2 separate regions of the Homo sapiens genome follow, and region 2 is linked to region 1. The links come from fine-mapping of genetic effects on gene expression. A gene starts in region 1. The other region holds a variant in brackets. All regions are shown on one strand. Distances are between the middles of the regions.

Region 1 (4,374 bases):
CCGGGCGGGATGGTGGCATAGCGGGGGCACAGGCTGGCCCTGGGAGGTCGCAGGCCAGTGGTGGGCCTCCTACATCAGACCTCCCTGGCTTGGGCCCCGTCCCGGGTGAGCCTGCTAAGCCCAAGACCAGCGCTCACCACGCCACCTTCGTCTGAGCTGCCCTGGCCTGGCCAACTCTCCTGTGGACATGTCGGGGTGGGGCAGCCCAGGTGGATTCTGTGGGCCTCAGGGGGGCCACCCTGGCCACCACACCCTCAGGAGCCCAGCCAGGAGGGCAGGGGGTGACCTCGCTGGAGGCACTGGCCCCGGACATTCGCCATGCTGGCCATGGGGCTCCCTGGCCCTGGCCTCCTGCTGCCCAATAAAGCATTTCTGAGGACCCAAGCGTCGGCCTGGTGCTGGGTGCTGGGGACACAGACTCCTCGTTCTCGGGGACTCCGAGCACATCCCCAGGAGGTCATGCAGGAAACAGAGGGGCCTGAGGAGGAGAAGTGCCCCAGGGTAAGGTCAAGGGGGCTTTGAGGAGAGGGAAGCTTGGCTCCTGGGGCCTGAGGGCCAGGACCAGATGGCAGAGACTGGCTCTCGCCGTCACGTGGGGACCCTGCCCCAGCCTTGTTTAGCAGGGTGGTCTGAGGGCCTTTCTGGGGAGGGACCATGTAAACTGCAACTGGACGGCAGAGGAAGTCTAGAAAGAGCCCTGGGCCTGTGCCAAGGCCCTGGGGCTAAGGAGGGTCTGATTACAGAAAGGGAACCAGGTGTGGCTGCAGGGGAGGCCGGGGCCTTGGGGGCTGGGTTGAGTCGGAAGAGGCAGGGCCATTCCCCAGGTTGCCTTGATGGAACCCCTAAAGCCAAGTACCCTCGGTACAGGGTGGTTGGTGAGCTCCTCAGACCATCCTAGAGGCCCGAGAGCACAGCCAGTCCCCTGGGGCTGTTCTAGAAGCTTCCAGGGAGTGGATGCACCCCACTTAGTGGTGCTCTAGGAAGGGGGCTGGGGGAGGGGTCGGAATGGAAGATGAAGCCCAGTGCCAGCTGTGTGTACCACCCACCACAAGCCCGCATCCATCCTGCTCCCAGCACCCACCATGCCTCCACATTCACCGTGCCCCCAGGGCCCACCATGACCTCCCCCCCAACCCCCAACCCCCCATTCACCGTGCCCCCAGCACCCACCATGCCTCCACATTCACCGTGCCCCCAGGGCCCACCATGACCTCCCCCCCAACCCCCAACCCCCCATTCACCGTGCCCCAGGGCCCACCATGACCTCCCCCCCAACCCCCAACCCCCCATTCACCGTGCCCCCAGGGCCCACCACGCCTCCATGTGCACTGTGCCCCCTGGGGCCCACGGTGTCAAGCTGGGTGGTCAGTGGGTGTCCATTCTCTCTCCCTCTGCACAGACAGGCAAATGGGGGGCAGAGAGAGGGGTTTTAGGGGATACAGGGAGGCAGCTTCAGCCCTCGCTGGTCTCCAGGCCACAGTGGTTCACTCACCCCTCCTCCCACCTCGGCAGCCCTGGGATGTCGCTGCTGACTCAGGAGGAACCCGAGGTGCCGTAGCGGCTGCTCCAATATTGCAGAAGAGGTTCCTCAGGCAGCTCTGCCCACAGCCCCAAGTCACGAATTCCGTGACTCCAGCTCCATCCCAGGCCCCAGGGTACCTGGCCCAGGGTTGTGCTGCCGCAGACTTGGCCTGTACCATCCAGGCGGCGGTGGGGAGCTGGGGTTGGAAAGGCTTCTTGGAGTGGACTCCTGGGTCTGTCTGGGAGACGGGGAGGAAGGGACACTCTGAACATCACCAGGGGCTGCTGGGGGGCCCTGGCCACCCCCAGAGTCAGAACAGGCAGGTGGGGCAGGATCTCAGGTCATCCTATGCTACACTCAGCCATTGCGTGGCCCCTCTCCTCCCTGTGCCTGGCCTTTTGGCCAGCCCTGGGGCCACCGAGAGGATGCAGCACCGAACCCTCCAGGAGCCCCCAGTGCTGCCGTCTGTGGGACAGGGACAATCCCATCCCCACTGCTACTGTCTGTGCTGTGCTGGGCACAGAGCTGGACACCTCCAAGGCCCAGCGCCCGTAGTGGCTCTCATCATGGACAATTCACAGGCAGATGGTGGCCAGCTCTGTGGCCTGCAGGGACTGGGAGCGGCGCCAGACCATCTAGGCCCCAACCTATCTGCATTATCCTGGAAGACTTCCTGGAGGAGGCTTCTAAGCTGAGGCCCAAGGACCATGTCAGGTCTAGGACTAGGACCAGTGCAGGCCGAGGCCAGAGAGACAGCTGGGCTTCCAGGTAGGGTCAAAGTGAGGTGGGCAGCAGGTGTGGGGGCCAGGGGACTCGGGGACTTCCTCTCCGGCTGGGCCCGCCTGACGTGGGAGGCAGCCAGGGTTAATCATTTCCACGAAGCCTTGACCCCACCTGCCTTGGCCGCTCTGCTCCCGCCTCCCACTGCCCCTCAGGCCAGCTCAGGAGCCATGGGGCGCTGGGCCTGGGTCCCCAGCCCCTGGCCCCCACCGGGGCTGGGCCCCTTCCTCCTCCTCCTCCTGCTGCTGCTGCTGCTGCCACGGGGGTTCCAGCCCCAGCCTGGCGGGGTGAGCACTGACCTTGTCGCAGTGCGACCAGAGGTTCCCAGTGGCTACTTGGGGTCCTTGGGAGGAGGCCAGAGGGAGGGTCGCCACAGAGCGTGGGGATTTGAGGGGGCGGGGGTCCGAGCAGGGGGCTTACGTTGAAAGCTGGCCCTCACAGGGCAGGTGGGTGCTGGACTGGCCTTGGAGGCTGGGGCCTGGGCTCACGGAGCCCCACCTGGGGGCTGTCATCCCTGTGCGGCCTGGCCTGGGCCCCTATGGGTCTGGGGGCTGCCCCCTCTCTCTGGACCTCTGTTGGGTCTGGATGCGTGAGGTTGGGGGAACCTCCCAGGGCCTCCTAGCTGCTCCCATCACCAAAAACTGACGTCAGGGTTTAAGCTTGGTGGGTAGCAGTGCCTGGGCCTGGGCAGTGACCCTGAGCAGGTGTTAACTAGGGGCCGAGGGCGGGGAAGGTGTCAGGGCCTGGCTGAGGCCTCAGGAATGTCGTGTGTCCTCCTGGAACCTGCTCCGAGATCTGGGGGCCCCAGTATGGAAACAGGCTCAGGGCTGTGACCTCCTGCCCGGCAGGACCTGAGTGTGAGGGTCTGTCCCACACTGACACCCTTTCTGCTCCTCCTAGAACCGTACGGAGTCCCCAGAACCTAATGCCACAGCGACCCCTGCGATCCCCACTATCCTGGTGACCTCTGTGACCTCTGAGACCCCAGCAACAAGTGCTCCAGAGGCAGAGGGACCCCAAAGTGGGGGGCTCCCGCCCCCGCCCAGGGCAGTTCCCTCGAGCAGTAGCCCCCAGGCCCAAGGTGGGTCAGGTGGGCCTGGGAGGAGGTGTCGTGCTTCACCTTAGGGCTGGGTGGGAGGAGCATGGCTGCGGCTGGAGGTCCTGAGGGGCTCGGGTGCCCCTCGAGGGAGCCCTGACCCTGCCACCCCCTCCCCACAGCACTCACCGAGGACGGGAGGCCCTGCAGGTTCCCCTTCCGCTACGGGGGCCGCATGCTGCATGCCTGCACTTCGGAGGGCAGTGCACACAGGAAGTGGTGGGTCCGGGCAGCCGGGGCACCCGAGCTGGGGTCACCTGCCCCACGCTGCCTGCTTTTCTGGGAGCCGGGCACACAGTAGGCGCTCACCACGCAGCAGGCGGACCCAGTGAACCCAGAGACCCTCCAGGGTGGTGGGGTGGGGTGGGGGGCCTCTGCCTGGGACCCCCATGCACGCAGGTGTCGCCCCCCAGGTGTGCCACAACTCACAACTACGACCGGGACAGGGCCTGGGGCTACTGTGTGGAGGCCACCCCGCCTCCAGGGGGCCCAGGTGGGTGCTGGGTTGGGTAGCCTGGGGCGGGCAGGGGGCACTGGGCCAGGCCAGAAGGGCCAAGGGGAGGATGGGGCGGACCCGGGCAGGGGTCCTGGCTGGAGGGGAGCAGAAGAGGAGCTCTGGGATTAACCCCGGTGGGTGCCACTTAGGGCCAGAGCCTCTCCCAGGTGGGACCTGCGTCTCATGGTGGCTGCGCGGCCATCGCTGGGGCCAAGGCGCCGCCTGGTGGTGAGGCCGGGCCCTGCAGCCACACAGGCGTGCCCCAGGCAGGGGACAGGTGGGCAGGGTCTGTGGGGTGCGGTGCCAGCCGCCCTGCTCACATGGGTCCTGGGACACATGGGAGGGGTCTGCTGCCTGACAGTGTGGGTGTCAGGCTTCCAGGAAGCCACGTGCACAGCTGGGCCAGTGGCCCAGGTGTTGAGTGGGGGACGCTGGGAGGAAGGGGAGGTCTGTGCCCCTCCCAGGGACCTTGCACCCCGA
Region 2 (4,374 bases), 160 kb before region 1:
GCAAGAGTCAGGTGCAGGGCCTTGTGGAAGGGGCGGCACAGGTGAACCCTCTTGGTAGGTTCAGGGCACAGGTGGGGAAGGAGTGGGCTCCTAAGGCGTGGGGTGGGGACTTCTCGACAGAAAGATGAAATTAAACTTTGAAGCCACTGCAGGAGGCAGCCCAGACTCCAGCCTGAGAGGACGAGCCTTCCCTTGTTTTCAAAGACTTCACCTCCCACCCCCTGCCCGTTGGGATTTGCTGCATCCCAGCGTAATCTGGACAGAGAGGCGAAAGGTTGCTCTGGGCCAAGGTCAACAATCTGTAGGAGCAGGCGTTTGGGGACACAGGTGGAATGGGGTTCCAGGAGTGCCAGGCTAAGCAGGAAGCCGTACGGGACTGCACTGGCTGATGGCATCCACCTGGGTTTGGGAATTGGGTTGTTGGCTTGAGCCCCAGGGGCGGCATGAGCAATCTGCTGGGCTGGCTGAAGCCCAGCTCACCCTGGCCAATGGGAAGCGCCAGCAGGATGCCCTGGAGGGGAGGGCTGAAGGGCGGGTGTGGGGGTGAATCTGTGTGTGCTGGCTGCTCAGCTGCTCCCTAAACTACCCCACCGCCCCGCTGGGCGACATTAAGAAACATCCGGCGGGGCGCATGGCTCATGCCTGTAATCCCAGCGCTTTGGGAGGCTGAGGCTAGGAGTTCAAGATCAGCCTGGCCAACATGGTGAAACCCCTCTCTACTGAAAATCACAAAAATTAGCCGAGCATGGTGGCAGGTGCCTGTAGTCCCAGCTATTTGGGAGGCTGAGGCAGGAGAATCACTTGAACCTGGGAGGCAGAGGTTGCGGTGAGCCGAGATTACGCCACTACACTGCAGGCTGGGCAACAGAGCGAAACTCCATCTAAAAAAAAAAAAAAAAAGCATTCAGTGAGGGCCGGCACGGTGGTGCATGCCTGTAATCTCAACACTCAGGAGGCTGAGGTAGGAGGATGGCTTGAGTCTGGGAAGTTGAGGCTGCAGTGAGCTGTGATCCCACTGCTACACTCTAGCCTGGGCAACAGGGCAAGACCCTATCTCAAAAAAAAAAAAAAAAAAAAAAAAGGACTATCCAGTGGGAGGCAGAGGTAGCAGCCAGGCCACGGTGCTCAGTGTTTGGTCGAATGCCAGTCTAGATGTCACCGTGAAGGTATTTTTTAGATAAGGTTAACATTTAAGTCAGGGAACTGCACGTGAGGCCAATGACCTTCCACGGTGTGGGTGGGCCTCATCTGAGCAGTTGAAGGGCTTGAGAGGAAAAAGGCTCCCAAGGAGGAGGGAAGGCTGCCAGCACGGTGCTCTGGACTTGAGGGGCGGCGGCAGCTCCTCCCCAGGTCTCCAGCCAGCCAGCGCCTCCCTGTAGAATGCAGACCTGCCGGCCCCCACCAGCCCATGCATCAATTTCTTAAAATCAGTCTCTCCCCTTCCTCTCTTTCTGCATCTCTGTCTATCTGCACACCCTACTGGATTCTGTTTCTCTGGACAGCACTGATACGGAGAGCCCCATAGCATTCTTGGGGCATTTGCAGAAAAGTGGCCCCCACTGAGGACTTGACAGGTGGCCCAGCTGGTGGGTCTTGTCTGGATGGTGGGACAGCAGAGGCAGGGAATCCGGACCTGCGGGCTGGCTGCAGTAAGGGGAGACCGAGGCGGCCGCTCAGGCAGCGTGCGGAAACCATTCCTTCAGCTCCCGCTCTCTATTCATAGCAAGTGCTACGGCTCCAGCAGAGGCCTGTTTTGGGGGTCATGACTGAAGTGACCAGAGCAATGTGAGGGACAAAGGGTGTGCCAGGGTGGCGTGGCTGGGCCTCTGGGAGCACGGGGGCCTGGAAGGAAGGGGGACTGGTGCCCAGCGCTCTGCTACACCTCCCTTTGTCCTGTAAGTCCTGTGTCCGTGGCCTCCTCAGCCCTGGAAGCTCCCAGGGCCCAAGGACGCAGGCCACGTGGTGGCCTCCAGGACCCGAGCCGCGCGCTTAACCTCTCGGGCTGGGTCCGGCGGGCTGCCCCGCCCCGGAACAAGCCCCAGCCCCACTGTCACCGTTGGGGGTGAGCTCGAGGTGGTGCCTCCCGGCTCCT[C/G]CTCATCCCCTCTGCCCCCACCCCAGTCCCCTTCCAGAGCAGACTTCTGTCGACTGGCTGGTCAGAGCCACCAGGCTGTGTCCTGGCACAGGAGTTGTGCATGGGCGGGACTCTGGGTTCTCATGCCCTGGGGAGCGCCCGCGCCTGGGGCAGGGCTCCGTAGACTCCTTTGTCACCCCTCAGCTTCGCCGTGAGGAAAATGTCCTGCAAACACCAGCCCAGATGGAGGGAGCCACGGCTTCACCACTTCCTGCCGGTGTGCCGGGCTGCGCTCCAGGGACCGCTGGGGCCGTCACCAAAAGAACGGAGCCCAGGGAACGTGGAGAGGAGCCCAGATGCCTGAGGTGAGCAAGGCAGTGCCTCCGTCCAGCCTGGCATGTCCTTCTGGTTATTCGTGAGGCCACCACAGGGAGGGTCACCAACTGTCTGTTTTGCCTAGGACCGAGGAGGTTCCAGGGGTGCAGGACCTTTGATGCTTAGAGCCAGGAGAGGCCACTCGGCCACCCTAAGGGCAGGTCTTCTGCCCCAGGCCGCGTGTGGTTTCTTTCGACACACTGAGGAAGCCTTTCTCCTGAGATCACCAAATGCAGCCTGCCCGGTTTCTGTTCCCCATTACTGCGTATGCGGTGGGCAAACCTCCTCCGGCCCTGAAAGCTCCTGGCTGCCTGGGGATTTTCTGTGTGCTCCTACATAAAAAGCAGCTTCTGTCACTCAACTGGCAAATACAGTCTCAATTCAGAGTCAGTCCAAATCCATTACCCTAACCCTGAGATATTAATCCAAGCTCCATTCTTGGTTTAAAGCCAGCCCCTGTGGGCCCTGCTCCCCCGGCCTCCTGGGGTGGAAGCCTGTGCTGGGGGCTGCGGTGTGGGGTTTGCTCTCCTCCCTCCCGCAGGTGGATGCAGGGCGAGGGAGTGAGGAGGAATGAGGGTCAGGGGCAGGAAAGGCAGCCTGTGGCAGCCAGGCGGGGCCAGCGCTGCACACCGGGGAAAGGCTCAGCGGGAACGTGTTCCCAGCACTTTGTCTCCCCAGGCCTCAGTTTCTGCATCTGTAAACGGGCATGTGCAGGGTTGTGAGAGGGTCAGAGAGCCCCCGTCAGGCCCTTAGTGCGCTGCTAGGCACCGAATGGGAGCCCGGTCAGCAGTGCCTGCGGGAGCCGACGCTGCTCCGGCAGGATTGAGTGGAATTCCGCCCAGGCCGGGAGCTCCCTCGGGCTGGGGAGGCCTCGGGGACCTGGCTATGATGGTGATCTGGGACTTGATGGGTGAATGGGTTGGGGCCAGCATCAGCTTTGGGCATATATTAGGGAGTTACTGAGGAAGACAGAGAAAAAGGGGCACCTAGTTCTTTTATAATCCTCCGGGAAAAGGTGAGCTCTGAGCGCTACCTGCTCACTGAACAGCGGAAGAGCGAGCAGCGCCCAGGCCCCGACGCTGTGCAGAGCCCCGGGAGGGCGGCGTTTGCGTGATTGTTCAAGGTGGACTCGAAGAGCAACATTTAAAACATTTCCGATGTCATTTTCTTGTTTTGAGGCGATGCTTTCTGATTTATTTCACGTTTATTTTCTGTAAAGGAAAACACCCTCCTAAACATACATTTTCTCAAGGCACATCACATGGTCTGAAAAAAAAAACAAAAAAAGGACATCTTCTCCAAATTGGTATTCCTCCAGCTGGAGCAGCTCTGTTGCTGCCAAGCTTCGGTTCTTTGACAAGAAGAGACATTTCAAAGCCGGGTCCCACAGGAGGGGTTCACGCCACACACGTGGCCAAGCCCTTCCTGATTCCTGAACCTGCCCCTGCCCGCTGGCCTTTGGGACCTCCCCAGCCCCTGGCCCTGGCGGCCCGAGGAAGTTCTGTGTAGGAATAATATGGTCTACTTAATTAATGCATATTTTATTTGGTGACAACGTCCCTAATTGCCATGAGCTCTACTTAGTAACAATATGCTCTATTTAATTAACTTTGTGTATTCTGGTTAAAAACATTATGCTTCATTTAATTTATTTCATCTGCTCACTGATGGTGAATTCCACAACACGGGCACAGGAGGCTGCCCCACCTGGAAGGTAGTCCCGGGACAGAGCATTTCAGATGTGGCAGAGTGCAGGCAAGGGGCTGGCAGGCTCATTTGTCCCACGGGGCCTGGGTGGGGGCCCTCAGCTCCCACATCTCCCCCAAACTCACCGGGCCCCACACAAACCTGTCCCCTTAGCTCTGTTTGGGGGCACGCCAGCCCCTTCGCTCCATCCCTGCCCTGCTTCCCAGCGTCAGCGCCAGAGT

The links. PIP is the estimated chance that this variant, and not a neighbour inherited with it, causes the effect.
Region 2: its variant is the best candidate, but not a certain one, in a credible set for the expression of HGFAC in cerebellum (GTEx, PIP 0.57).

What each region holds. Positions count from the first base shown.
Region 1 is chr4:3,439,530-3,443,903 of GRCh38, forward strand. HGFAC (HGF activator) reads left to right here and starts at 2,439. Exons shown (of 14, transcript NM_001528.4): 1 at 2,439-2,589; 2 at 3,203-3,383; 3 at 3,521-3,617; 4 at 3,812-3,891. The coding sequence starts at 2,473. RGS12 (regulator of G protein signaling 12) reads left to right here. Exons shown (of 18, transcript NM_001394154.1): 18 at 1-384. The coding sequence ends at 155. RefSeq lists a silencer at 3,969-4,018.
Region 2 is chr4:3,283,640-3,288,013 of GRCh38, forward strand. It overlaps a transcript of RGS12 not described here. Among named protein-coding and RNA genes, the nearest start is that of RGS12, 7.2 kb to the right of the region's middle. The variant C/G (reference allele first, on the strand shown) is at 2,093.